Linked DNA regions of Homo sapiens. The protein of the gene in region 1 purifies or fractionates together with the protein of each later gene. This does not show direct contact. Each region holds a gene or a part of one and is shown in the gene's direction. Other genes may lie near its edges. The genes, in order: ARHGAP39, PRDX4, ANP32A, SDHA, ALDH18A1, PDHA1 and COBL.

Region 1 (4,040 bases):
CACCACCCTGAGGCGCTGGCGGCTCCGGGGGCTTCCCCGGTTGCGGGTGCTCAGGAGCACAGCAGTCAGGGGCGGACTGGGCTTGGGTTTGCTTTCCTCTATGACAGGATTTCTGGGTTTCGCAGCTGGGGCTGGAGCCGGGGTCTGCAGGGGTGGGAGGCGCGGGCCCAGGCCGCCGTGGCTCCAGCCGCCTTAACCCTGTCTCTCCCCAGGTTGGAGTGGGTGGAGATCATCGAACCGCGCACCCGCGAGCGCATGTACGCCAACCTGGTCACCGGTGAGTGCGTGTGGGACCCGCCGGCCGGCGTCCGCATCAAGCGCACCAGCGAGAACCAGTGGTGGGAGCTGTTCGACCCCAACACGTCCCGCTTCTACTACTACAATGCCAGCACGCAGCGCACGGTGTGGCACCGGCCGCAGGGCTGCGACATCATCCCGCTGGCCAAGCTGCAGACGCTGAAGCAGAACACGGAGTCCCCGCGCGCCTCGGCGGAGAGCAGCCCCGGGCGCGGCAGCAGCGTCAGCCGTGAGGGCAGCACCAGCTCCTCCCTGGAGCCCGAGCCCGACACTGAGAAAGCGCAGGAGTTGCCAGCGAGGGCCGGGCGGCCCGCGGCGTTTGGGACAGTGAAGGAGGACAGCGGCAGGTGAGGGCGGGGGCAGCTGCTATGGGCGGGGCCAGGTGAATGGAGTGGGCGGGGCCAGGTGAGGCAGGTAGGGGGTGGTGGGCGGGGCCAGGTGAGAGCGGGACTGGTGAAGGTGGTGGGCGGGGCCAGGTTAGGAGTAGGTCGGGTATGGTGGGCGGGGCCAGGTGAGTGGAATGGGCGGGGCCACGTGAGAGCGGGACTGGTGACGGTGGTGGGCGGGGCCAGGTGAGGAGTAGGTCAGGTATGGTGGGCAGGGCCAGGTGAGGGCGGTGGGCGGGGACCCAGGGGACTCAGTGTCCCCGCGAGTGGCCAGAGCCTCGTCCTTGGCTGTAGCAGCCACCGCTGCTGTCCCCAGTGAGCACTTTCTTGTCTCTCTGGGCAGCAGAGCCTGGCGCTCAGCCTCAGAGGGTTCTGGGTCCTCCAACCCTGCCCCTCACTGGCCCAGCCCCTGGCAGGTGGTGGTTCCTGAGAGCAGTGTCTGAGGGGCTCGCCCAGCTCTCTCTGCTGATGGGAGATGCAGATGTGGGGATTTGCGTGCGGGCGTGGGGTGTGTGGACCTAGGGGGACCCAGGTGGAGGGTGTAGATCAGTGTGGACACAGCTGAGGGGTCTGAGCAGGCTTGGAGGTGGTCCTCTGGAGTCACAGTGGCTCCGAAGGAGCACAGCCTGTGTTGGTGGGAGCCCAGGAGACCCCTGCCCTCAGAAACAGGGAGAGGTCAGGGTAGAGCGCAAGGGCCTCGAGGTGAGTGCACCGTGGGAAGCGAGTCCAGAGAGGACGGTGGGGAAGAGCCGAGGCAGGCGGGCAGGACAGTGGGGAAGGGCTGAGGCAGGCGGCAGGCCAGCAGGACAGTGGGGAAGAGCCGAGGCAGGGACAGGAGGCTGGGGCTTCCCAGAGCCCAGGCTGTGGCCCAGGGCAGACAGGCCTGGCCACTGCAGGGGCGGATGGAGGCCACTCTGGAGAGGATGGAGGAGAGGCTGGACCCCAGGGAGAGAAAGGCAGGGGATTGGTCTCCCCCAGTACCAGATTTTCGGTGCTTGGCTGAGGTTGCCAGGGGAGCTGAGGCCCAGGGGCTTTCTGCAGAGGTGGGAAGGAGCGTGTTGGACTGCCGGGCTCATCTGAGGCTTCAGAAGAGGGATTCAGAGTGAACCACAGAGCTCAGAGGACAGCAGGCTTCCGTCCCACCGTGCCGAGGTGCAGGCACAGAGGGAGGCGGGCAGCAGGTTCATCCCGTGGACCCGGTCTGGCAGGATGAAAGGGAGGCCAGGGATGGGGCCTGCTGCAGAGTGGGCAGGAGGTGGGGCAAATCAGGTGTGGAGGAGCCACTGGAGCACACCGGGAAGACGGTGTTGGTGTCGGTATTCAGGGCAGGGTGAGCAGCGGAGGCTCGGGCGTGGCGTGGGTGAGCGAGCGGTGCAGAAGGCGGGCACAAAGAGGACCAGGGCCTACATTTCACATCCCACCAGCAAATATGAGGGTTCAAAGTTATCCACGGCCTTGCCAACACTACTTGCTTTCCTTTTTAGATTTCTTTTAGCTATTGTAGCCACTGTGAAATGTCTCATTGTAGTTTTGGTTTGCATTTCCTTAATGACTAATGACTTTGAGCCTTTTTTCACTTTCTTTTTTTTTTTTTTTTTTTTTTTTGAGACAGAGTCTCGCTCTGTCGCCCAGGCTGGAGTGCAGTGGCACGATTGCTGCTCACTGCAAGTTCCGCCTCCCGGGTTCACACCACTCTCCTGCCTCAGCCTCCCGAGTAGCTGGGACTACAGGCACCTGCCACCACGCCCAGCTAATTTTTTGTGTTTTTAGTAGAAACAGGGTTTCACCATGTTAGCCAGGATGGTCTTGATCTCCTGACCTCGTGATCCACCCACCTCCCAAAGTGCTGGGATTACAGGCATGAGCCACCACGCCTGGCCCCTTTTTTCACTTTCTTGATGGTATCATTTGAAAAACAAAGGTTTTTGTTGTTTTTGTTTTGTTTGTTTGTTTGTTTGTTTTTGAGACAGGGTCTCTCTTTGTCTCTGGGGCTGGAGTGCAGTGGTGCAATCTCACTGCAGCCCTCACCTCCCGGGCCCAGTGACCTCCCACCTCAGACCCCCAAGTATCTGGGACTGCAGGCACGTGCCACCACACCAGGCTAATTTTTGTATTTTTTTTGTAGAGATTGGGGTTTCACTATGTTGCCCAGGCTGGTCTCCAACTCCTGAGCCCAGGCAGTATGCCCACCTATGCCTACCAAAGCACTGGGATTACAGACATGAGCCAAAGTACATGAGCCAAAGTGTGCATGGCCAAAGTACAAAGTTTTTAATTTTGGCCAAGAAAAGTGGCACACGCCTGTAATCCCAGCACTTTTCAAGGCCAAGGAAGGCAGGAGTTTGAGGCCAGGAGTTTGAGACCAGCTTGTCCAACGTGGCAGAACCCTGTCTCTACTAAAAGTACCAAAATTAGCTGGGAGTGGTTGTTCACACCTGTAATCCCAGCTACTCGGGTGGCTGAGGCAGGAGAATCACTTGAAGCCAGGAGGTGGAGGTTGCAGTGAGCCGAGATCGCACCACTGTACCCCAGCCTGGGTGACAGAGCAAGACTTTGTCTCAAAAACAAACAAACAAAAATTGACCTGTCATAGATTTGGGTTCATTTCTGGCCTCTCAATTGATTTGCATTGATCCATATCCCAGTACCACATTGTTTTGATCACTGTAGCTTTGTAATAAGTTTTGAAACTGGAAAGTGTGAGTCTTCCAGCTTTATTCTAATTTTTCAAGGTTGTTTTGGCTATTTGGAGCACCTTGCAATTCCACAAGAATTTGGGGATTGGCTTTTTCATTTCTTTTAACAACAACAAAAAAAAAGCTTTTGGAATTTTGGATCTGTGTGGGGGATTGTGTTGGATCTGTAAGCTGATATTTCATCCAAGCAATATTAATTTTCTAATCCATGAACAGAGGATGTCTTTTCATTTGCTTATGTCTGATTTTTCTTAGCAGTGTTTTATATTTTCTAGTTTACAGTCCTTTCACCTCCCTGGTAAAGTTTCTTCCTAGATATGTTATTCTTTTTGATGCTGTTGTAAGTGGAATTTTTTGTTTGTTTGTTTCTGGATTGTCCATTGTGGTGTATGGAAACATAACTGATTGTGTGTTGATCTTGTATTGTGCAACTTTGCTGAATTTCTGTATTAGCTGTAGTAACCTTCGTTTATAATCTCTGGGATTTTCTATATATAGGACTATGTCATCTGTGGTTAGTGATAGTCTAACATCTTCCTTTCCAATTTGGATGCCTTTTTCTTCTCCTTAACTGATTGCCCTGCATAGGATTTCCAGTGCAGTGTTGAATGGCAGTGGTGAAGGGGCATCCTTGTTCTGCTCCTGATCTCGGGGAAAGCTT
Region 2 (4,040 bases), on another chromosome or scaffold:
TCTCCTGGTTTCAAGTTACAGAATACAGATTGAGCGTCCCTAACCTGAAATCCACAGTGTTCCAAAATTCAAAATTTGAGTGCTGACATGATGCTCAAAGGAAATGCTTAGTGAAGCATTTCAGAGTTCAGATTAGGGATGTTCAACCAGTAAGTATGCAGATATACCAAAATCGGAAAAAATCCTAAATCCAAAACACTTCTGGTCCCAAGCACTTCCGATAAGGGATACTCAACCTGTAGTGAAGACTGAGGCATCTGATATTATAACTCACTTCCTTCACTGCTTCAAGTGGACTTTGCATTTGTCTCTCAGAATATTAAAATGTCATCCATTTGTATCCTGCCTGTCTGTTCAAGGCTTTATCTTATGATCACACTACTAAGGTTATGCTTTTGATACTACGTATCTTTTGATCTATCAGTTTCACTTTCAGAAATCAATTAGACAAGTGTATAAAAGTAAGAATACAAGGATGTTTTCAGCAGTGTTTATAAAGCAAAAAAAAAAGGTAAATGGTTTAAATCTTCATCATGGAATTAAGTAAAATACAGTAAAGATGTTCCTGACTTACGATGGTTTGACGTATAATTTTTCAACTTTACAGTGGGTTTATGGGATAGTAAATACATTTTTAGCTAATGATATTTTCAATTTATGATGTGTTTATCAAGACACAGCCCCAGCCGGGCACAGTGGCCTGTAATCCCAGCACTTTGGGAGGCCAAGGTGGGCGGATCACCTGAGGTCAAGTGTTTGAGACCAGCCTGGCCAACGTGGCGAAACCCCATCTCTATTAAAAATACGAAAAATAGCTGGGCGTGGTGGCGGGTGCCTGTAATCCCAGCTACTTACAAGGTTGAGGCAGCAGAATCACTTGAACCTGGGAGGCAGAGGTTGCAGTAAGCCAAGATCGTGCCATTGCACTCCAGCCTGGGTGACAGAGCAAGACTCCATCTCAAAAAAAAAAAAGAAAGAAAGAAACAACCCCATCTTAAGTCAAGGAGTATCTGTGTATCCATACATTAAAAATGTGTTATAGGCCAGGCGCGGTGGCTCACGCCTGTAATCCCAGTACTTTGGGAGGCCAAGCCGGGTGGATCACCTGAGGTCAGGAGTTCGAGACCAGCCTGGCCAACATGGTAAATCCCTGACTCTACTAAAAATGCAAAAATCAGCCAGGTGTGGTGGCACATGCCTGTAATCCCAGCTACTTGGGAAGCTGAGGCAGGAGAATCGCTTGAACCTGGGAGGCAGAGGTTGCAGTGAACCGAGATCACGCTGCTGCACTCCAGCCTGGGCGACAGAGCAAGACTCCGTCTCAGAAAAAACAAAAATGTGTTGTAGGCTGAGCACAATGGCTCACGGCTATAATCCCAGCACTTTGGGAGGGTGAAGCAGGAGGATTGCTTGAAGCCAGGAGTTCGAGACCAGCCTGGGTAACAAAGCCACACCCCATCTCTACAAAAAAGTGTTTAAAACATTAGCCCAGTGGGATGGTGCACACCTGTAGTCCCAGCTTCTCAGGGGGCTGAGGCAAGAGGATCGCTTGAGCCTAGAAGTTTTAGGCTACGCTGAGCTATGATCACGTCACTGCCCTGCAGCCTGGGAGACAGAGCAAGACCCTGTCTCAAAAACATAAAATAAAAATGTGTTGTGTATATATATTTTTAATGTTTAAAGGATATGAATATATTAAATGGGAAAAGCAAGAAAATAGAAAGTATATTAGCCTGTTTTTGTTAGTGAAAGAATGTGTGTATTTCATGTGTGTGCGTGTGCATGTATAGAGAAAGAGTGCTGTTTTAATATATGCCGTTTACTTAGCTCTGAGAGGTAAGCGTTCTGTTTGTTACAGGATTAATACCCCTCGAAGACAAGGAGGACTTGGGCCAATAAGGATTCCACTTCTTTCAGATTTGACCCATCAGATCTCAAAGGACTATGGTGTATACCTAGAGGACTCAGGCCACACTCTTAGGTACCTTTCAGTGGTTTTATATTATGACAAATCCAAGCGTGTTTATAATCCTCCTTGAAATAGATGTTATTTATGAAATAGAAGAACAAATTTTGATCAAGAAATATAATTTTGAGGCCAGGCACGGTAGCTCAAGCCTGTAATCCTGGCACTTTGGGAGGCCACGGTGGGCAGATTACTTGAGGTCAGGAGTTTGAGACCAGCCTGGCCAACATGGTGAAACCCTGTCTCTACCAAAAAATATAAAAATTACCCAGGCATGGTGGCGTATGCCTGTAGTCCCAGCTACTCGGGAGGCTGAGGTGGGAGAATTGCTTGAACCTGGGAGGCGGAGGTTTCAGTGAGCCCAGATCATGCCACTGCACTCCAGCCTGGGCGACAGAGTGAAAAAAAAAAAAAAGAAATAATTGGCTGGGCATGGTGGCTCACGCCTATAATCCCAGCACTTTGGGAGGCCGAGGGGGGCAGATCATGATGTCAAGATATCGAGACTATCCTGGCCAACCAACATGGTGAAACCCCATCTTTACTAAAAAATACAAAAATTAGCTGGGCATAGTGGCATACGCTTGTAGTCCCAGCTACTCGGGAGGCTGAGGCAGGAGAATCGCTCGAACCCAGGAGGCGGAGGTTGCGGTGAGGCGAGATCACGCCACCGCACTCCAGCCCAGGCGACAGAGCAAGACTCCGTCTCAAAAAGAAAAAAAGAAAGAAAGAAAAATGTTACTTTGTTCTATTAGTCTTTAAACTACTAAACTTAAACCGTTAGTTTATATTACCCTGATTAAACTATGTTAGCATCATAGACTTTTAGAGCTGGAAGATTATTTAGAGGTCTTTCACCCACCCTGTCATCTTACAGATAAAAGAGACAGATTCATAGAGTTCCGTGATCTTAGCCAAAGTTATATAATAATTTAATTGCAGAGCCCAGACTTAAATCCAGGTCCCCCAACTCCTTGTCCATTTCTTTTTCCTTTTTTGCAACCTGACTCCAGTAATGTTTTTTTCTAAATACAAGTGTCATACTACTTAGCAAACCTGTGTCTTTGGAGTAGGAAAAATTAAGGAAATATTTTACCCAGACGCTCTCACTGGGTTACTTGAGCTAACAAACATTAATAGAATTCTTTGAAAAGGGGGCAATTTTAGTGTGGAACAGTTGTAATTTGGTTGTATTGATTTGCTTTGTAGTGCCAATAGTTTTTCTTGAATGTTTTATGTGAAAGTGTCAGTATTTTATAATCCTGTGTTTTTTTATAACAACTTTATTGGAATATAGTTCACATATAATACAATACCCATTTAAAGAATACAATTCAGCTGGGCATGGTAGTTCATGCCTGTAATCCCAGCTCTTTGGGAGACCTAGGTGGGAGGATCCCTTGAGCCCAGGAGTTTGAGACTAGTCTGGGCAACATAACAAGACCCTTGTCTTCTACAAAAAAAAAAAAATAATTTTTTTTTGTTAAATTAGGCCATTGTGGTGGCACATTCCTGTAGTCCCAGCCTACTCAAGAGGCTGAGATAAGAGGATCGCTAGAGCCTGGAAGTTCAAGGTTGCAATGATCTATGATCACACCACTGCACTCTCGCCTGGGTAACAAGAGTGAGACCCTGTCTCTAAAAAAATAATTAAAATTAAAAATAAAGAATACATAGCCGGGCGCAGTGGCTCACGCCTGTAATCCCAGCACTTTGGGAGGCCAAGGCAGGCGGATCACGAGGTCAGGAGATCGAGACCATCCTGGCTAACACGGTGAAACCCCATCTCTACTAAAAAAAATAGAAAAAATTAGCCGGGCGTGGTGGCGGGTGCCTGTAGTCCCAGCTACTCGGGAAGCTGAGGCAGGAGAATGGCGTGAACCCTGGGGGGCGGAGTCTGCAGTGAGCCGAGATCGCGCCACTGCACTTCAGCCTGGGCGACAGCGAGACTCCGTCTCAAAAAAAAATAAATAAATAAAGAATACATTTCAGTGGTTTTTGTGTATTCACAGAGTTGTGCAACCATCACCACAATTTTAGAATGTTTTCATGCTCCAAAAAACCCCATACCCAT
Region 3 (4,040 bases), on another chromosome or scaffold:
GAGGAGATAAATTCAAGGGGACAAATCCTAGTCCCCATAACAGCAGCCTGTGTTATGACAGCACACCACAGCCCCAATTCCCTCTTTCCTGCTGCTGCTGCACCACCAGCCTCTCAAGGTGGCTTACTCTAGACTTACACAGTTGGCCATCTTTCTTTTTTTTTTTCTTTCCCCATAGCAGTATGAGACTTGTTTCCTTTTTTATTTATTTATTTTATAATTTTTGTAGAGACGGGGTTTTGCCGTGTTGCCCAGGCTGGTCTCAAACTCCTGGACTCAAGTGATCTGCCCACCTTGGCATCCCAAAGCGCTGGGATTACAGGTGTGAGCCAGCGTGCCTGGCCCCCTTCTTCAATACCATTGGAAAGACATCTGCTTGAGCTTTCAGAGCTGTCCATCCCAGAGCTTGGGTCCAAATTAATTACATCACATTGAAATAAAAAACTTCCTGGAGGCTGGGTGCAGTGGCTCACGCCTGTAATCCCAGCACTTTGGGAGGCCGAGGCGGGTGGATCACGAGGTCAGGAGATCAAGACCATCCTGGCTAACACGGTGAAACCCCGTCTCTAGTAAAAATACAAAAAATTAGCCGGGCATGGTGGCGGGTGCCTGTGGTCCCAGCTATTCGGGAGGCTGAGGCAGGAGAATGCCGTGAACCCGGGAGGCAGAACTTGCAGTGAGCAGAGATCGTGCCACTGCACTCCGGCCTGGGGGACAAAGCGAGACTCCGTCTCAAAAAAAAAAAAAAAAAAACTTCCTGGAAATTGTGTAGGATACTCTTTAGACATCTCATGCCTTTGCTATTTTGGTGCAGTCACTTAGGAAAGGAGCCGGGAGCTTGTTGGTGATTGGGCCCTGGCCCAATGAACGTGGCCCAATTGTCTGGCCTGAATTCTAACTTAGTTTAAGAGGAGGCTCATAGCTCTGGTGTCTAGAGAGGCATTCCTTTAGAAATGTTTGCCACCAGCATCCCTCCTCTTTGTTTTGGCAGTCCATCCCTTACTCTAGCTAGTTCTCTGGTCTCCTAGGAACTACCCTCTCCCAGTCCCCCAGCACCACTGCCTTCAAGTAGAGAAACATGGACCTGACTCTGAATCTTCTATAGCTTTGAAATAGAATTATACAACAAATGATAAATACCCAACAATGATGTTTTCATTAAAGAGATGGAGTCTGGCAGGGACAGAGATTTGTGAAGGCATCTGTTATTCAGAACTTCTCATTTAATAAAATTTGTTGAAACTAGATGAGCAAAGCACCATGGCCCTGAGCCACCTTCTCAGACATGGAAGCAGCCTCCTTGTCTAGAACTAGTTGTCCTGATGATATACAGACTCTAAGGAAGATAAAAGTCCCTTTATTCTACCACACCAAGCCCTGTCCTGGGCCTGCTGGGCCACACCCTGCAACCCAGTGCTTTCCCTCAGATTTATTTTGTTTTAGCTCCACAGCTGCCCCCTGAATTCATTCAGCTACTGTTTCCTTTACCAAAACTTGCTCCAGGCAGCAGATCTAAAAGATCAGCTTACTTACTACTCCACTGTTATTTACTCTAATGTGGATTAAAGTCAGCACTGTTTTTCCCAGAGGTATTTACATTTGGAGATTCTGGTTTGGTGAGGAAATTACCAGAGAACTATTAAAGACTTGGATGCTCTTCTCGGCTTTGCTATTAAGTAAGTTGGACAAGTTGTTTGGCTTCTTTGAGCCTCTGTTTTCTCCATTCTGAAATTCTAAAATGGGAGTGTTGAATTAGATCAGTGGCTTTCGAACTTTCTGCTCCTAGTAGTGAGAAATACATTTTACTCCACTCCCTGGTATGTACACGCATTCCTGTGTTTTGTGAAAAACCGACACCATGCTCCTCCCTCACTACATGTAAAACACTTTTATTCATTAAAAAGAAAACTGACTGGCTTGGACCTACAAATTAGTTTCATTATTTGTTAATGTTTGAAAGCCATTAAAAGATGAATATTAAGGTTTCTTTATACTCAATACTTGTAGTTTTGTTTGGGGGAATGAGAGGATGCCCTTGGTACCTTTGTGAGGCCTCTCCACTGAGGGTCAATCATGACTTCTGTTTTAAACCAGCCCATCCCATCTTCTCCAGCTGCTCTCCTTATGTCTTGCTTCTCTCCCCTCCAACCTTCTCAGCATAAGGACTCAATCCTAGGCTCCTACCCCAGACGGGTGCCTTCCAACGTTCCTGGTGCCAGTGGCCCCCCATCAGCCATGTTCCCCCAGCCCCTTCTCCACACTCTTGTCACCCAGGGCCCCATCCTTCAGTGCATTGCACACTTTGCATGCTGGGTCAGGGAAGATTGTGGAGAGAGGACAGTGCACCTGGTTTCCCCCACATAGACTGCGTGGGGGTATGTCCTGCTTCCGCCACTTCCAACTGTGGCACTTGGGCACGCCCCTCTCAGGGCACCTTCCCTTTTTGTCTCCGCAAAATGAGGTTGTAATAGTGCCTGCCGCACTGTCTGGCACACAGTAAGCTCTCAAGAAATGTTAGCTGTTGTTGCCGTTAGAACACCATAGCTAGAATACCATACCTGGCATTCACTTAAAAAAAAAAAAAACAACTTAGGGCCAGGCGCAGTGGCTCACGCCTGTACTTCCAGCACTTTGGGAGGCCAAGACAGGCAGAGCACCTGAGGCCAGGAGTTCAAGAACAGGCTGGCCTTGTCTCTACTAAAAATACAAAAAAAAAAATCAGCCGGGTGTCGTGGCAGGTGCCTGTAATTCCAGCTACTCTGGAGGCTGAGGCAGGAGAATCGCTTGAACCTGGGAGACGGAGGTTGCAGTGTGAGCCGATATCGTGCCACTGCATTCCAGCCTGGGCAACGAGCGAAACTCGGTCTCAAAAAAACCCAACTTACATTATCCGCAGACACATTACATACAAAAGTAACCATTTTCTTTCAATGGGAAAGGAGGTTTAGAAGCTAGAGATTCAAAGTTACCAGGAGTTACTTTTTCCCACTAGGAATTCACTACAGTCCTGACATTGGACTCTAGGTAGTTTCTACTGAGGGTAAGTGACTCGTCCCTCTTCTGGGCAACTCTTTTTCTTACTGCCCTCAGCAGCTATTTCAGGCCTCCACCCCTTCCCTCCCGGCCAGGACGTCCTCTTCACAGAAAATGGAAACCTCCTGGTTTCTTAAGTAGTTGTGAGGCTGAACCTGCCTTAATCCCTCCCAGTTCAGTGGTCTTCTTGTCTTGTCCATCCCTCCCTCAGTTCCCTTGTTCCTCCTGGGCACCTAGCCACTCCTGTCCTTTGGATTCTTCTCCAGCTGGGGATGCTTCTCCCATCTTAAAGCAAAGACTCTAATTGATCCCGTGTTGCGCTGTAGTTACTGCCCATCCCACTCTTCTCCCTACTCCCTAAACTTTCTGAATTGTCTATCTTCTCCATCCTGTCACCTCTCTTACTCCACCACGTGAAGTCTGGTTTGCTTCCTAAATAGTGCCAAGAATCCCAACAGCCTTCATTTCTTATCTTGCATGATGTCTCAGTGGCGGGATTCAGCATTCTTTTTTTTTTTTTTTTTTCCCAGACAGAGTCTCACTCTGTGGCCCATGTTGGAGTGCGCAGTGGCTTGATCTCAGCTCACTGCAACCTCGACCTCCTGGGTTCAAGCGATTCTCGTGCCTCAGCCTCCCGAGTAGCTGGGATTACAGGTGTCCACCACCACGCCCGGATAACTTTTTTATTTTTAGTAGAGAAGGGGTTTCACCATGTTGGCTAGGCTGATCTCGAACTCCTGACCTCAAGTGATCTGCCTGCCTCGGCCTCCCAAAGTGCTGGGATTACAGGCGTGAGCCACTGCGCCCGGCTGGGATTCAGCATTCTTGACTTTATGATAGATGCTCTCCCTTTCTCTGGTATATCTTCTACGGCTCTAGTCACTGCTCAGTTTCTGGTGTCCTGTTGCTCTCCTGTTTAGCCATGAAGTATTGACTTAGTCAAACTTGGGCGCTGGGCATTCTTATCCTGTATTCTCTCCAGTTGGAAATTTGTCCTTCCTCACTGA
Region 4 (4,040 bases), on another chromosome or scaffold:
GGCAACAGAGTAAGACTCCGTCTCAAAAAAAAAAAAAAAAAAAGTAAAGCAGGGATTGTTCAGTGTCCCTCTTCGCAACGAGGTCGTCAGCTCCTCGGGCAGGCAGGTCTTCTCGTTAGCTGTGGTGCTCCATGCCCAGCACATGGTAGGGTCTCCACCGGGGTTTACTGAGTGAACATTCTGAGAGCTGGGAGAATGCCATGGAACCGAGAAGCAGCACAGGCAGACTTCAGCTTTGTAGGAGAACACGGAGCTTCTGTGACAATGGGATGTAAAGTTAGGACGCAGCCGTGACAGAACCCCATGTGACATTGGGCGCTGGGCTCAGCCCACGTGACCACTGAGAGAGCTTGTCGTGGGGAAGATGAGCTCGTCTTGGGGACGTCTGACGGTTGAGGTTACGAATGTGCAATTCGGAGACATTAACTCAGAAATGACAGTTGAAGTCTTGAGTTTGGAGGAGGTTCTTCAGAATGAGTCAGAGACAGACACACACCTGCCTCTTGTTTGAGGTGACTTGTCCTATACTTTTCTGGGTTGCTTTTCTGACCTGTGGACGATGGAGACCTCTGAAGTGGTGCCAAAGAACCAGACCTGTGTCTTCTCTTTCTCTGTCAGTGTCAGCTTTCTGATCCCTGGAAGGGATGAAAATAAGAAATGAATTTGTTGTAGTGTTTTTTTTTTATTTGTTTCGAGATGGGGTCTTGCTCTGTTGCTCAGGCTGGAGTGCAGTGGAGCAATCTTGACTCACTGCAGCCTTTGTCTCCCAGGCTCAAACGATCCTTCCACCTCAGCCTCCCAAACAGCTGGGACTACAGGCATGTGTTACCATGCCCAGCTAATTTTCGAGGGTTTTTTCGTTTTTGGTAGAGACGGGATGTCACCGTTTTGCCCAGGCTGGTCTCAAACTCCAGGGCTTAGGCCATCCTCCTGCCTCGGCCCCTCAGGGTCCTGGGATTATAGCCATGAGCCACTGCACCCGGCCTGTTGTATTTTTTATTACTGTTTTTAATGAATAAAATGTCACTGAGCCCCTGAATTCCCTCTGTAATTTGCTTAGAGCTCCACTGCTCATGCTTTGTCTTCAGTATGTGAGAAGTAACCACAGAAAAAAGAGCATTGAAACTTAGAAAATCAAAAGACAGACAAGAATCACATTCGTTTTTTAAAAGCAAGATTGCCCTTTTTGTATACTAATAAAAATTGTAGCTTTCGAAATACATTTAGTTTAGGGTTTTTGATCTCCTTTGTTAAAATTCGAGAGCTTGGCATGCCCTGTTTCTCATCGCACTGAGGAGTCACAGAGCCGCTGTTTGGAGCACAGACCGCCGGACTACCCAGGTTTGGGTTTGAGCTCTGTCCTCAGCTGCATGACTGGATGTTACCAAGTGTTAATTTGCTTGTCACTGAGAAAGGGGGTCGTACTACCCAGAGTTGTTGTAAGACTTAAACGAGTTAATATGTGGAAAGCAGCTAGAACTGCCCATAGCAAGTGCAGTGTAAATATTATCTAAAATAATCATTATTACTGTCCTTGTCACTGTTTGGATAATTTAGATATGAATACTTCAAGCTAGTATTCTTAACTAGTCACCACAGTATCATAGTGCAAAAGAATGTTCAAAAATTAAAACAAAATTTGAGGCATCCAACGTACACTGGGCTGTAATCAGAGTATTGGCCAGAGGTCTGTGGGCCGGCCTTTCTCCTCTCTGGGGACACCGCTCTGCCCCAGCCTCTGCTGCAGCTGTCAGCCTTGTCAGTGCTTTTTGTTATCCAGACTTTCTACTGTATCTTAACTGTCTTGCTGTGCAGTTTTGCACATAATGCCTTCTGCTTATCTTTTTCCTCTTTCCCCCAAAAAATGTCTTGAAAAAAATAATGCATTTGAAATAGAGATCTAGCAATTGTTAGGTAATAAATATGTGTGGTTTTTTGCAGGCATATATGGTGCTGGTTGTCTCATTACGGAAGGATGTCGTGGAGAGGGAGGCATTCTCATTAACAGTCAAGGCGAAAGGTTTATGGAGCGATACGCCCCTGTCGCGAAGGACCTGGCGTCTAGAGATGTGGTGTCTCGGTCCATGACTCTGGAGATCCGAGAAGGAAGGTGCGTGTGATTTACCACCAGCACTGTCTGAGCGGGCACACGGGCCGGGGTTGCTTCTGTGAGTTTCAGCACCGCTCGCCCTCACCTTCGTGTGCAGGCGCATGTGCACAGCCACCTCTCTTAGCTGCTGGCAGGCGTCTGTTAGTCTGCGATATTTTCCTAAAGACCTACATTTTGAAAATTTTAGCCAGTTTCTTTCTCAAATCTGTGGAACAGAGTTTCTCTTAGTGTGTGTGAGTATGTGACGGAGTATGGGAGAGAGAGACACACACCCAACCTGAAGTCGGCATGTGAGCCTTGGGTGTTGTGTCTGATACCCACAGATGTTTTTTGGCAGCTTTCAAAGTGTGTGGGTTATTTGGCTTTCAGTAAAACAGTTTGCAGCTCTTTCATTGCCTGACCCTGTTCTTTAATGTAATGACATTTGCTAAATATCTGCTGGTATGGCCTTTAGAGGTTTTACATTTTTATATTAAAAAAACAGAGAAGTCAGGTGGGGCGCAGTGGCTCACGCCTGTAATCCCAGCACTTTGGGAGGCTGAAGCGGGCAGATCAGGAGGTCAGGAGATCGAGACCATCCTGGCTAACACGGTGAAACCCCGTCTCTACTAAAAATACAAAAAATTAGCCGGGCGTGATGGCAGGTGCCTGTAGTCCCAGCTACTCGGGAGGCTGAGGCAGGAGAATGGCGTGAACCTGGGAGGCGGAGCTTGCAGTGAGCTGAGATCACACCACTGCACTCCAGCCTGGGCGACAGAGCAACACTCTGTCTCAAAAAAAAAAAAAAAAAAAAAAAAAACAGAGAAGTCAAATGGTTTTTTGGAATATGGTGGCCCTCCGTACCCATTGGTTCCACATGTGTGGTTTCAGCCAACTATGTATTGAAAATAAAATTGCATCCTTACAAATATGCAGACTTTTTTTCCTTGTCATTGTTCCCTTAACAATACAGTGTAACAGCTATTTACGTAGCATTTACATTGTATTAGGTACTATGAGTCATCCTGGAGTTGCTGTAAAACTTAAACGTAAAACTTGAAATGAGGATGATTTAAAGTATAGAGGAGGATGTGCATAGGTTATATGCAAATACTCTCCCATTTTATATTAGGGACTTGAGCATCCACGGATTTTGGTATCCGTGGGGGTCCTGGACCCAACCTGCCACGGATACGCAGGGACGACTGTATTTGGCATAGAGGCCTTTCTAATGCACTTACCAAGGACACCTGCAGCAGGCTGTGATCCCTGAGACGAGCGTGAGTTTAGTGAGGGCAGAGTTTTTGTTCTGGTTCTCAGCTGTGTCCCAGCACCTGGGATTGTCCCTGGCACACAGTAGCTGCTTAGAAAAGATTTGATGAGAGGGTGACCATACATGAGGGGAAATTTTCCTCAGTATCAAAACATGTTGAAACTCACACACTTCCAAGATGACGTATTCTCAGGTCTCCTGCCGTTGCCGTTCTCTGCCGTATGTGATGGTGTTCTGTCTTACCAGAGGCTGTGGCCCTGAGAAAGATCACGTCTACCTGCAGCTGCACCACCTACCTCCAGAGCAGCTGGCCACGCGCCTGCCTGGCATTTCAGAGACAGCCATGATCTTCGCTGGCGTGGACGTCACGAAGGAGCCGATCCCTGTCCTCCCCACCGTGCATTATAACATGGGCGGCATTCCCACCAACTACAAGGGGCAGGTGATGGTGCTGGCTCCTCCCCCACAGCTGGAAAGAAGGCTGGGACGACGGGGCCCACCTCGCAGTTGTCTCTTTAGATCTTACAGGAAAAGATAGATGTTTCCTTCAAGAAAGTACTGTATTGTTTTCTAGATTGCACTTTAAATTTCTATTACCGGAGGATGGAGGGGGCTTAATAATTTATTCCTCCTTAGTAAATTGTCAGAGATACATCATTTGCAGCTTTTTCCATTTTG
Region 5 (4,040 bases), on another chromosome or scaffold:
AATTTTTGGTGGCTACCCCTAAATGTTCTAGAACCTTCTTTCTACATTGTTTCATTTTTACCTAAATCTCCTGAATTTTTTTGAATTATATTCTTAATCAACTGTACAACTACACACTAGAGACATCTCAATAACAGTCACTTCAGGAAACAACTGAAAAAAAAATCTAACTCCCAAATTATTTTATTTTGAAATTCCTTTACCTGTAAAGATGTAAAATAGCTGTTATTTTATATTATGGATATTATTTTACATGTACACTACATGCACAGATGTTATTTTACACAGGTGATATTGTTATATATACATATATTGTTTCAGGTTTTGCTTCTTCATTTCCTGTTACTTTTTTTTGTTTCTCCATCATTTGCCTGTTTGTACCCACAGTGATGTTCTGGTATTACACCAGAGTGTCCTCAAGTCAGTGAGGTAAAACAGAAAGGCACGGACTTGTCCCATTGCCTATGGCTGGGGACCCCACTTTCTGTAGTCTTAGCTTTTTTTCTGTTAGTATAAATACAGTATAAATCTCTATTTATATCACTCTTCTTTATTATTTGGTTTCTCTTCACAGTCCAATGACAACTTTGGTCTTTAATTTTTTTAAAGTGCCTGGAGCCAGGTGAGGAAGCTCAAGTCAGGGAGCTATGGTTTTGCTTTGGTTTGGTTTTTCCCAGGGATGAAACCTTTTGAGAGTTTGTTTTTGTTTTATTTTGTTTTGAATGATGGTAGCATTAAGAGTCCATGCAGCATCAGCCATTGTTTCCATTTACATTGAGTGAAAGAAGAGCCCTGCCCCCTCCAGTTCCCAACAAGCTTCAACCCCTGGGCTCTTTCCTCTCACACCTGTGTCTTCCCCCAAGGCCATCATATCTACAGAAAATATTTGCCCTTTGTACCTTTTCCTGTGGTTCCTTATTTTCTTCAGTAATCCTATATAGAAGACCATTGTCAGTGGCTTTTGAAAATTTCCAGTAGGTGGTTTGCCAGGTTAAAGACTTAAACACTTAAAACAGCTTGTTTTTTCTTCATAGAAGGGAAACTGATTTTCCCTCAACAGATTGCGCTTGTCTAAACACGTACTTTTCCCTCTTGGGACTCTTTATCTCCTACCTTCATGCTGAGATCCCCAGGCCATGTTTGTGAAGCTATTTTGGTGACAGGTATTTTTCCTGGACCTTTAGATCTCCTGCTTGTCTCTCCTACACACGGGTTTATATTAATTGTTTGATCTTTCACCATCGTGACTAGAATCTATATGTTCAGTTTGGACCTAGTCCTGTGTCCAACAGCACTAAGCTTTTCTGAAAAGGAGTTCATGATCTTCCCTTTCAAAAATATGCTCCATTTTATTTTTCCCCAAGACATCAACATTCTTATTCTCCATTCCAGCAGCTAGACTCTGGCATTTCAGAGGTACTCAACAAATTTTTTATCGAGTGAGTGAATTATTTTTCTATATGTATGTTTCCTGTGTTTTATATACCATTAAGGCTACTGTTTTATTGCTATATTCTTCTCAGTTACCATAGCCAGACCCTTAACCATCCTCACTTTGACTGTTTCAGTGCCTGCTTTCTTTACTATTTGCTTCCAGCTTTCCCTACCTCATCCTGCCCTACACAGCAAGAACGCTCTTCCGTAAACATTAGAGAGATTGCATTATTTATTGTTGAGCCTCAAGGTTTGTTGCCATTTAGTTTCTTGCTATCTCCATTCACCCATTTATCTTTTTCTCCTAAACATTGCATAAAATTCTGATTTAAGCTAGAAAGCAGAGCTGTTTACCAGCCCACACACCAGCTCTCCATTCTACCTTTGAGCACCTTATGCTCATCTCCTCCCTTGAACCAAGTTGTGTTCTGCCCCCCTTTCAGCTTGTGACCAAAGACTAACTTCCATAAATTTCTCAGACTAACCCCACATGCTCACACACAATCTTAGTTAACTCCAGTAATAGTCTGCTTTAGAGCAAGAGCAGTGACAACACAGCCCTATTCCATTTTGTCTAATACACTTTCACTCACTCACCAAATATTTAAGGGCCTACTATGGCCAGGCCCTGAATCAGATCCTAGAATACAGAGATATTTTAGAAATTGCTGGGGCACAGCGGTGTGCATCTTTAGTCCCAGTTACTCAGGAGGCTGAGGTGGGAGGATCACTTGAGAGTAGGAGTTCAAGTCCAGCGTGGACAACAGAGTAAGACCCTCTCTATAAAAAAAGAAAAGAAATTAATGGATAATCACTGATTCCCCCAGTATCCCTCTAAAATAGATACATTAATTTTCTTAATTTTGTAAATGGATGAGATTTTGGAATTTGGTAGCTCTTTGAGGATTAAAGTACTTTTGCAAGAAGTCTTGAACATTCTTAAATAAATCTTTCAGATTATTGTAATTTTTTTTATCTCTACAAAAATTGGGGCCAGGTGCAGTGGATCACACCTGTAATCCCATCACTTGAGGCCAGGAGTTTGAGACCAGCCTGGCCAACATGGCGAAACCCTGTCTCTACTAAAAATACAAAAATTAGCTGCGTGTGCCTGTAATCCTAGCTACTTGGAAAGCTGAGGCATGAGAACTGCTTGAACCCAGGAGGTGGAGGTTGCAGTGAGCAGACATTATGCCACTGCATTACGGCCTGAGCGACAGAATGAGACCCTGTCTCAAAAAAAAAAAAAAAAAAAAAAGAATTGGATAGCACCCAGATATGTGTATTTCATTCTAATCTTCTAATCTGTGTGGGGCCCCAGAAACCTAAAGTTTAACTCCCCTGCTCTTAGCGTCTTTTGTATACTGGGAAGTTTAGCGTTTTTCTCCCTCATGCATTTTCCATCTATTTAATCCTTTTAGATTTTGGTGACCAATTTGGATTTCCATGATGAGCAGAAGCGCCGGAACCTCAATGGAACACTTCATGAACTCCTTAGAATGAACATTGTCCCCATTGTCAACACAAATGATGCTGTTGTCCCCCCAGCTGAGCCCAACAGTGACCTGCAGGGGGTAAATGTGGGTAAAGTATTTCTAAGGGTTTAGCATGCTGGAGACACTAACACCATGCTATGCTGCATGCACTAACACCAGAAGTTTGGCATAAACAAGATGGAAAAGTTGTGAGAGAAACTTGTCATGGAGCAGTGACTGCATAAGCTCTTCTGAACTCGTGGTTGCATTCAACAGGGTGAGGTGCTATAGTCACTGAAGATGGTGCGATGAGCATGGCTTGTATATTTCAGTGGCTAGAAGACTGCATGTTTGGAAAAAGGATTGCCAGTAGACAGTGTGTTCTGCAGACAGAAGGGGCCTGCAAGAGCCGTCATCTACATATTTGGGTTCATTGGTTTTGCCTGATCCTAGCTTGGTTTTGCCTGAGCTTGGCTGTGTTCTTCCATGAATTTCTTTTTGGACTGCTTAGCTCACTCACTTATGACTTTTTAATCTGCATTCTAGGTTATTAGTGTTAAAGATAATGATAGCCTGGCTGCCCGACTGGCTGTGGAAATGAAAACTGATCTCTTGATTGTTCTTTCAGATGTAGAAGGTACAAAGTAATGCTTTTTTCCTTTATCTGCCCTTTGTTTTAAATGCTACATATGTGAGCACATGAGTTTCCCTCTTTCTTTGAGTCCCTCTGATGTTTTTTTGCTATAGATCATTAGCCATATGTTCTGACAAAGGGCTTTTATGACTCAAAACAGGGTGGGTGAGTCTAAGAGATGTCATTTGAATCCTGAAATGTTACTTCCAGGTGCTTTCAGTTGTTTTCCTTAAATAACAGCTTTATGGAGATGTAATTCACATACCATACAATTCACTTATTTGAAGTTTACAATTCTGTCCTGGCGTGGTGGCTCACACCTATAATCCCAACACTTTGGGAGGCCAAAGCGGGAGGATCACTTGAGCCCAGGAATTCAAGATCAACCTGGGTAATATAGTGAGTCCCTGTTTCTACAAAAAATAGAAAAGTCAGCTGGACATGGTGGTATGCGCCTGCGGTTCCAGCTACTCGGGGCTGAAGCAGAAGGTTCACTT
Region 6 (3,997 bases), on another chromosome or scaffold:
AATTTTCTTTTATTTATTTATTTTTTTGAGACAGTCTCTCTCTGTCGCCCAGGTTAGAGTACAGTGGTGATCTTGGCTCACTGCAGCCTCTGGTTAGAGTACAGTGTGATCTTGGCTCACTGCAGCCTCTGTCCACTGGGCTCAAGCAATCCTCCCACCTCAGCCTCCCGAGTATGTGGGACCACAGGTGCACACCAACACACCCAGCTAATTTTTGTATTTTTTGGAGATACGGGGTTTCACTATGTTGCCCAGGCTAGTCTCAAACTTCTGGGCTCAAGTGGTCCGCCCACCTTGGCCTCCCAAGGTGCTAGGATTACAGGCGTGAGCCACTGTGCCTGGCTGAAGCCAGTATTTTAGAATTAAAAAGTAGAATGCCAAAACCTGCTATGAAGCTTAGGCTAAAGAATTCATTCACACATAACATTGCCAGTTTTCTGTACCTGTTCTTAGAGTTTTACTATTTTAAAACTTTCTGGCACTATGATCGCCTGTACTGTATATAATTTGGAGAGAAAGGATTAGTTTGTTTTTTGTTTTGTGGGCTTAGGTCAAGGGTTAGAGTCAAATACCTACAAGGGCCAGCCAGGTAGAATAAATGAGTGAAGAAGGCTAGGTATACAAAACAGAAAATGGTGACAGGGACTCATGCTGAACTGGCACCAGCATGCCCTACCCAGAGGAATGCCATGACTTGGTTCCAGCCAGTTGGTGCCATGTGGAAATCAGGGGTAATGTTTCCTGTTTTCCATGTCTAAGAGAAGGCGGAAGTCTGGATTTTCATGTGAAATTCCCCAGTGTTTTAATGTTGACATCTGATGTAGGCTTTTCTTTTAGGTCATCATACAGGAGAAAGGAAGGAAGTGGCACATGTGTGGGTTGCCAGTTTATTGCTTCTGGTTTGGGCCTTCCACTCTGTATTTTGGTGGAAAATAGCTACTTTCTCTGGTTATTAATGACAGGTTCTACTAGCCCACATATTTCACTGTGGTCTAGGAAACGTTTTTATTTAGAAACATGTATCATATTGCCTCATAGTTTCTCCTTCCTCTAACACAGGAAGCTTGCTGTGTGGGCCTGGAGGCCGGCATCAACCCCACAGACCATCTCATCACAGCCTACCGGGCTCACGGCTTTACTTTCACCCGGGGCCTTTCCGTCCGAGAAATTCTCGCAGAGCTTACAGGTTTGCTGTTGATTTACAGAAAGGGGAAATGAGTGGATTAAGTTTTTAAATATCTGTCATTAAGATGCTATTATGAGTTAATATTTGTTAAAAATTTTAAGTTTCTTTTTTTAACCCTCTCTCCTTTGGTGCTCTGGTACTTCTGTTGTGCTCTTGAGTTAACTGACCATTTGTGAAGTTCTCTGGCCCCTCAGGTAAAAGTTTAAAACAGGTTGGTGCTATAAAATCACAGTAGGTTTGGTTATCATTCAAGCATGCCAGAAGAAGTCTAGCAGTCATAGAAAGTAAGTTCGGTTGAAGCACTCCATGGTATGCAATGTAAATTCTAGAAATCTTCTTAATATTCCCCTTTTCTTTGTCCCCCGTGACTATTTGTTTGTTTTGGTGGTTTTTTTTTTTTTTTTTTTTTGAGACTGTGTCTCACTCCGTTGTCCAGGCTGGTGTGCAGTGGTGTGATCACGGCTCACTGCAACCTCCACCTCCCGGGTTCAAGTGATTCTCATGCCTCCACCTCCTGAGTAGCTGGGACTACAGGCATGCACCACCACACCTGGCTAATTTTTGTATTTTTAGTAGAGATGGGGTTTCAACATGTTGGCCAGGCTGGTCTCCAACTCCTGACCTCAGGTGATCCACCTGCCTTGGCCTCCCAAAGTGTGCTGGGGTTACAGGCGTGAGCCACCGCACCTGGCCTGTTTTGTTTTTTTGAGACAGAGTCTCGCTTTGTTGCCCAGGCTGGAGTGCAGTGGCCTGCCTCAGCCTCCCAAAATGCTAGGATTACAGGCGTGAGCCACTGTGCCCGGTCCTCCTCCTCCTCCTTTTTTTTTTTTTTTTTTGAGACAGAGTTTCACTCTTTCACCCAGGCTGGAGTGGCTGGAGTGAAGTGGTATGATTTTGGCTCACTGCAGCCTCCGCCCCCCGGGTTCAAGCAATTCTCCTGCCTCAGCCTCCTGAGTAGCTAGGATTATAGGTGCCCAACCACCACACCTGGCTAATTTCTGTATTTTTAGTAGAGACCAGGTTTCACCATGTTGGCCAGGCTGGTCTTGAACTCTTGACCTCAGGTGATCCACCCTCTTCGGCCTCCCAAAATGTTAGGATTACAGGCGTGAGCCGCCGTGCCCGGCCCTCCTTGACTCTTGAACTATGGTTGTCCCTCTATATATCCAGGGGATTGGTTCTAGGACCCTCGAGTATACAAAAATCCTCAAATACTCAAGTCCCAAAGTCAGCCTTCCATATCTTCGGGTTTGCATCCTGAGAATATTCTATTTTCAATACATGTGTGGCTGAAAAAAAATCTGTGTATAAGTGTACCTGTGCAGTTCAAACCCTGTTCAAGGATTGAATATATTTAGTGTACTAGTATAGGAGAGGTCCTAAGATGTTTGTAACTGGCCAGAAAACCCAGAAAAGTCCAGGGTATCATCTGGATGGAACATCTGAAGGAAACTAAGTGACTAGAGAGTAGGAAAAGCTGGAAAGGTTGAAGCACATGGAACTAGTGAAAGGACAAGGAGAAACATGTGTTTGCCTGGAGGGACAGGTACTTAGACGACTGAACTGGCCTCTGTGTTCTAATGGTTGAGCCTCAGAGTACATATTTGGGGTGCGGTTTGGTTTGCTTTGTAGAGTTGGTTTGTTCTGCACATGTGTATGTTCTGCCATTTCCAGGACGAAAAGGAGGTTGTGCTAAAGGGAAAGGAGGATCGATGCACATGTATGCCAAGAACTTCTACGGGGGCAATGGCATCGTGGGAGCGCAGGTAGTCAAGGACGAGGATTGTGTGCTGCTTTAGATTTGGCCCTGGACTTTGTCTTCAAAAACTTTCACAGCCCCAGACAACTTTTCCTGAAGTAGTACAGCCATGTGCTGCACAGTGACGCTTTGGTCAATGTCGCATATATGATGTTGGACCCATAAGATTATAATGGAGCTGAAAAATTCCTGTCGCCTAGTGATGTTGTAGTGGCACAACACATTACCTTTTCTACGTTTAGGTACACAAATATTTTGCCTACAGGATTCAGTAGAGTCACATGCTGTGCAGGGTTGTAGCCTAGGAGCAGTAGGCTCTACTATACAGCCTAGGTGTGCAGTGGGCTGTACCATCTAGGTTCGTGCATTACAGTATGGTGTTCACATGACAAAATCGCCTAGTGATGCAATTCTGAGAATATATCCCTGTTGTTAAGTGACGCGTGACTATTTTGGGGGCTTGGTTTGCTTTTAAAGACCTAGTGCTTCATATCCTACCGTTTGAGAGATGAGTAGATTTGGATGGTGATTTATAATGTTTCCTTTTAGGTGTCTGCTGTTTTATAAGTAAGCAGGAACCTCTAGCAGTGGAGCCATACCTTCCCCTTCCTATTTATATTTCAGTACATTAATTGCTTTATCTTGTCAACTTCATTTTGGGGTCCTTGTTCTCATCAGTTAGTGAATGATGAAGAATTAACAGCACAAAATTATATCCGGACTGTTTCTTTTCCTTTCTAATATATTAAGATTCTATTATGTGTTGTTTTTTTTTAAACCTAGGTTTTATTTTTCCTTTTGAAATGGAGTCTTGCTCAGCCGCCCAGGCTGGAGCAGTGGTGTAATCTCAGCTCACTGCAACCTCCACCCCCGGGTTCAAGCAATTCTCCTGCCTCAGCCTCCCGAGTAGCTGGGAATATAGTTACGTGCCACCATGCCCAACCATTTTTTGTATTTTTAGTAGAGACGGGGTTTCACCATCTTGTCCAGGATGGTCTCGATCTGTGGACCTCGTGATCTGCCCAAAGTGCTGGGATTACAGGCGTGAGCCA
Region 7 (4,040 bases), on another chromosome or scaffold:
TTCCTGATTATTATATATGCCTGGTGTTTTTTAAAATATATTTATAGCTTAAATACGTGTGTGTAGTGTGTATACATAAATACATGTAGGTCTGTGTACACACTGTATATGTTTCATATATGTGTGTATATAGTACATATATACAGTATATATGTATTTATATATATATATATCTATGTACATATATAGATATTCCTGTATTTATGTGGATATTTTGACTCCTTAAAACTTTGATGTCATGTTTTTGGAGGGTTTTTCTTTAAATTATTCATACTGCTTCCAAACTTTTTTTTTTAGAAAATGCATATAAGTGCCATGTGTTCACATCTGGCCAGAACCCTTGGAAGACAGTAAAGTATATGTGTTGGATTTTAAATGTAGAGTCTTCCCTGATGTTTATTTCGCTGTGTTGTTAGCAGCTTGTTCACTAGCAAGAGATTCTAAACCAGATTTATTATTCTAGACATTTGTTTTTCAATATTCATTATGCTGTTTTCCCCCATTACTCACTCAATTTGTGGAAGAAGGATTCAGGCTACACACAATCCTGCCACACCCAATTGTCAAATTGACACAAGAGTTGAAGGCTTGTGGGAGGATATCTTACTGAATTCTTTTTGCCTGTGTGTTCTTCCAGAAATCTGTGCGTTTGGTCGTGAATTACCTGCGGACACAAAAAGCTGTTGTGCGTGTGAGCCCTGAGGTTCCTCTCCAGAATATTCTCCCAGTCATTTGTGCAAAGTGTGAGGTCAGCCCAGAGCACGTGGTTCTCCTCAGGGACAACATTGCCGGAGAGGAGCTGGAGCTGTCCAAGTCCCTGAACGAGCTCGGGATAAAGGAGCTCTACGCGTGGGACAACAGAAGAGGTGAGGCCCCGCTGCGTCTCACGCACCTGCCCATAATCACACGGATGCGCGGCGTGTACATGTCCCCTGTTGGCTCTCCCCAGCACTCTCAGTAGCGCCAGGGAGAGATGGGTACATGAAGTTCCAGGCAAGTCAAGTTGAAGTAGGCAAAAAAGAAATCTGGCCTGTTTTCATTCCTCTGGATTGAGCTGTGCCTCCTTTCTCCCAGCCCTGAACATGTCCTTTATCCTTTGTCTCCCTGCAAACTTCCACGACATAAGTAAAAGGGGAAAAGGTGAGGTGAGATTAGAGCTTATGCTCTGAAGTAACTACTCCAAACCATCTATAATACTTTCTTGTGGGTTGGTGGCTCACACTTGTAATCCTGGCACTTTGAGAGGCTGAGGCAGGAGAATGGCTTGAGCTCAGGAGTTCAAGACCAGCCTGGACAAAATAGTGAGACCCCGTCTCTACAAAAAAATTTTAAAATTAGCCAGACGTGGTGGTGCATCCCCATTCCTGTAGTCCCATCTACTGGAGAGGCTGAGGCTGGAGGATTGGTTGAACCCAGGAGGTTGAAGCTGCACTGAGCTATGATTGCACCATTGCCCTCAGCCTAGGTGACAGAGTGAGACCCTGTCTCTTTAAAAAAAAAATTATCTTGATTTTCTTTTTCAGTTGCCATTAACTGCTGTTCCCAGGTTTCAAACATTGCTCATGTCTAAAACCAGTGGCAGAAATTCATTTAGCTGTTCTCTAAAACTGAACAATTACAGTGCGTGAGATCCATTCCTGAAGATAACTTTAGGGCCACCTTAGGCCTCCTCACTGTGTTGCCAGTGTCATCCTGCTTGCTCATCATGTGAAACTGGCTTTTAGTATGAGGCCACAGTTAGAGCCACTGGTGAGAGTGGCAGCCCAGAGGCCTTGCTGGTGCAGAGACTGTTATGTTGTGTAAGCACATGTTTCTGATTGATATAGAGTGCTAACTGCTACTGTCAGGCCAAAGGAAATGTTATATTCCTTGACCTTAGAATGATCAAAATGGACTTCGTAAAAGTTTCTCTTCTAATAAGCCTCATTTGATGTCTGTTGTCTCTGTTTCATTATTCCACAAATATTGAATAGGTTGAGTTTAAAAAATATATACATATTCAAGTTTTTCCTGTTTTTCTATGACTTTTTTTTCTAATTTTTTCCAACAAAAATGTATTTTTTCTCTTTTTTTTATTTTTTGAGATGGAATTTCACTCTTATAGCCCAGGCTGTAGTGCAATGGTGCAATATCGGCTCACTGCAACCTCCACCTCCCAGGTTCAAGTGATTCTCCTGCCTCAGCCTCCTGAGTAGCTGGGATTACAGGCACCTCCCACCATGCCCGGCTAATTTTTGTGTTTTTAGTAGAGACGGGGTTTCACCACGTTGGCCAGGCTGGTCTCGAACTCCTGACCTCAGGTGATCCGCCTGCCTTGGCCTCCCAAAATGCTGGGATTACAGGCCTGAGCCACTGCGCCTGGCCATATTTTTTCTTAATACCAAGTTTATTGTGAAATCCATGATCATAGTGGAATCTCTGTCCAGCCTTCCTCTCCCCGCCAAGTCCGCCCTTGTCTTCCTGGGTATCTGGCATCTAGATCTGATTTGACATTCAAGAGAGGGTTTTGGCTCAGTTGAGTATAAGATACATGGACTGTTTATTTCTTCAAAAAAAGTACTCTGACATTTGAGAATAATGCATCTTGTGTTTTATCCAGTGTCTTTTTTAAAACACAGACAGAAATAGTCTCAGTATTGCTGCAAAGGCCTGGTGGCACTGAGTATATCAGCACTATTTAAATTTGGTTTACATGACTCTTTGGAAACAGCTTCCATTTGTTAAGATAAAAAGAAAAATAAAGGGAAAACTGTTTCACGTTCAGGTATCTGAAATAAAAAGGCTTACAAGTGTTTCTGTTACATGCTACCACTTGGATGTATCTTGAAAGGTAGATGTTGAACCTGGCACTTGGGAGAAGTGATATAAAACCTGCCTGTCTGTGAAGGAGAGGACCCAGGATAGCCCATGGTCATTGGGAATGTAGGAGCTGAAGTGTTCATGTGGTCAGGGGCCCAGAGCATCTCTTCTGATCCTCATATGGGACAGAGCAGAACAAGCCGGTGCGGTCAGCTTGGCCGTTCAGATTTGGAAGCACTTCTGCCCTTGGTTGGAACTAGCTGCTCCCAAACCTCCAAGTCCCCCTCTCTACTCCTTTGGACATTTTGGCCCTTTCCACCCCACCCCCAAGGCACCACGAGCTTCCCCACCATGGGGGCTCTGCTCCAGCCTTGTGGCCAGCACCCCTTTCGTCTGGACCATGCCTGTGCCATGCCAGCTGTGACATTTGATTACCGTCCCTGCCAAATGCCTGCCTCCTGCTCACTGTCAAATATTCGAAAAGAAAAGACACTTGTCCAGAGGCCATCTCCGAGGCTCCCTTTCTCCCCTACAACCGCCCTGGGCAGGCCTGCTGGGTACTGCTGGAGGAGCCCTTACTTTCAATCCTCTTGGTAGGCACTTGGAGGGGACAGACGTCCACTCCTGAGCCCTACCACTGCTGGAGAACAGAAGGGCAGCTGGCAGGAGGTGAGGCATTGCTACGCAGAGGCCTGCCCTCCCCTGGAATCCCCGGTGGGAGCATCTTGATAAAGCCAAGGGCTCTGCTGCCACCTGCGTCCTCAGCGGTGCTTAGCAGGCTATGCAGCTGTGGCCCTGAGAGGGCCAGCCCAGAGAGGCAAGCTGACCCAGCAAGAGACCTTCTCACTGCTGCAGCAGGACAGCCCCCCTCTGAGGCTTGTGAGGGCCAAGGCCTGGGTCAGGGACTCCCACACATCTCAAAGCTGGACCTCACTCTCTCATTGCCTGCCTTTTCCAGTTCGTCTGAGCAAAACTCAGTCCGAGCCTTCCCTGAGCTGTCAAGGTACAGTGAACCTGGGGCTTCCCGCTCCCGCTGTGAGGCTGCACTATGCATGGCTCTGGGGTCAGAGCTGCACAGAGGTGATGTTTTTGTGCCAGACTCCAAGGAATGGAAGTTTGGCTTGGGGCCCTCCTGAAGGTGCATGCGAGGCTGACATGAGATTTTGGTTTGGTTTCTTGATTCCCTGGTTGGTTCAGATAAGAATGCTTCTTAGGAGAATTTGCTGTGTGGCTCTAATTGA

The links.
Region 2: the proteins of ARHGAP39 (region 1) and PRDX4 purify together in Homo sapiens (affinity purification with mass spectrometry, with the first as the bait; one large-scale study listed by BioGRID). This does not show direct contact.
Region 3: the proteins of ARHGAP39 (region 1) and ANP32A purify together in Homo sapiens (affinity purification with mass spectrometry, with the first as the bait; one large-scale study listed by BioGRID). This does not show direct contact.
Region 4: the proteins of ARHGAP39 (region 1) and SDHA purify together in Homo sapiens (affinity purification with mass spectrometry; one large-scale study listed by BioGRID and IntAct). This does not show direct contact.
Region 5: the proteins of ARHGAP39 (region 1) and ALDH18A1 purify together in Homo sapiens (affinity purification with mass spectrometry, with the first as the bait; one large-scale study listed by BioGRID). This does not show direct contact.
Region 6: the proteins of ARHGAP39 (region 1) and PDHA1 purify together in Homo sapiens (affinity purification with mass spectrometry, with the first as the bait; one large-scale study listed by BioGRID). This does not show direct contact.
Region 7: the proteins of ARHGAP39 (region 1) and COBL purify together in Homo sapiens (affinity purification with mass spectrometry; one large-scale study listed by BioGRID and IntAct). This does not show direct contact.

What each region holds. Positions count from the first base shown.
Region 1 is NC_000008.11:144,577,450-144,581,489, reverse strand, and holds part of ARHGAP39 (rho GTPase-activating protein 39), read left to right. Parts: intron 1-212; coding exon 213-644; intron 645-3,409; exon of another isoform or gene 3,410-4,040.
Region 2 is NC_000023.11:23,677,307-23,681,346, forward strand, and holds part of PRDX4 (peroxiredoxin-4 precursor), read left to right. Parts: intron 1-1,858; coding exon 1,859-1,981; intron 1,982-4,040. UniProt on the Homo sapiens protein: Thiol-specific peroxidase that catalyzes the reduction of hydrogen peroxide and organic hydroperoxides to water and alcohols, respectively.
Region 3 is NC_000015.10:68,810,582-68,814,621, reverse strand, and holds part of ANP32A (acidic leucine-rich nuclear phosphoprotein 32 family member A), read left to right. Parts: intron 1-4,040. UniProt on the Homo sapiens protein: Multifunctional protein that is involved in the regulation of many processes including tumor suppression, apoptosis, cell cycle progression or transcription. Promotes apoptosis by favouring the activation of caspase-9/CASP9 and allowing apoptosome formation.
Region 4 is NC_000005.10:231,536-235,575, forward strand, and holds part of SDHA (succinate dehydrogenase [ubiquinone] flavoprotein subunit, mitochondrial), read left to right. Parts: intron 1-1,941; coding exon 1,942-2,110; intron 2,111-3,608; coding exon 3,609-3,804; intron 3,805-4,040. UniProt on the Homo sapiens protein: Flavoprotein (FP) subunit of succinate dehydrogenase (SDH) that is involved in complex II of the mitochondrial electron transport chain and is responsible for transferring electrons from succinate to ubiquinone (coenzyme Q).
Region 5 is NC_000010.11:95,632,465-95,636,504, reverse strand, and holds part of ALDH18A1 (delta-1-pyrroline-5-carboxylate synthase), read left to right. Parts: intron 1-2,855; coding exon 2,856-3,014; intron 3,015-3,455; coding exon 3,456-3,546; intron 3,547-4,040. UniProt on the Homo sapiens protein: Bifunctional enzyme that converts glutamate to glutamate 5-semialdehyde, an intermediate in the biosynthesis of proline, ornithine and arginine.
Region 6 is NC_000023.11:19,350,222-19,354,218, forward strand, and holds part of PDHA1 (pyruvate dehydrogenase E1 component subunit alpha, somatic form, mitochondrial isoform 1 precursor), read left to right. Parts: intron 1-1,038; coding exon of another isoform or gene 1,039-1,059; coding exon 1,060-1,186; intron 1,187-2,860; coding exon 2,861-2,952; intron 2,953-3,997. UniProt on the Homo sapiens protein: The pyruvate dehydrogenase complex catalyzes the overall conversion of pyruvate to acetyl-CoA and CO(2), and thereby links the glycolytic pathway to the tricarboxylic cycle.
Region 7 is NC_000007.14:51,187,676-51,191,715, reverse strand, and holds part of COBL (protein cordon-bleu), read left to right. Parts: intron 1-637; coding exon 638-866; intron 867-3,757; coding exon of another isoform or gene 3,758-3,802; intron 3,803-4,040.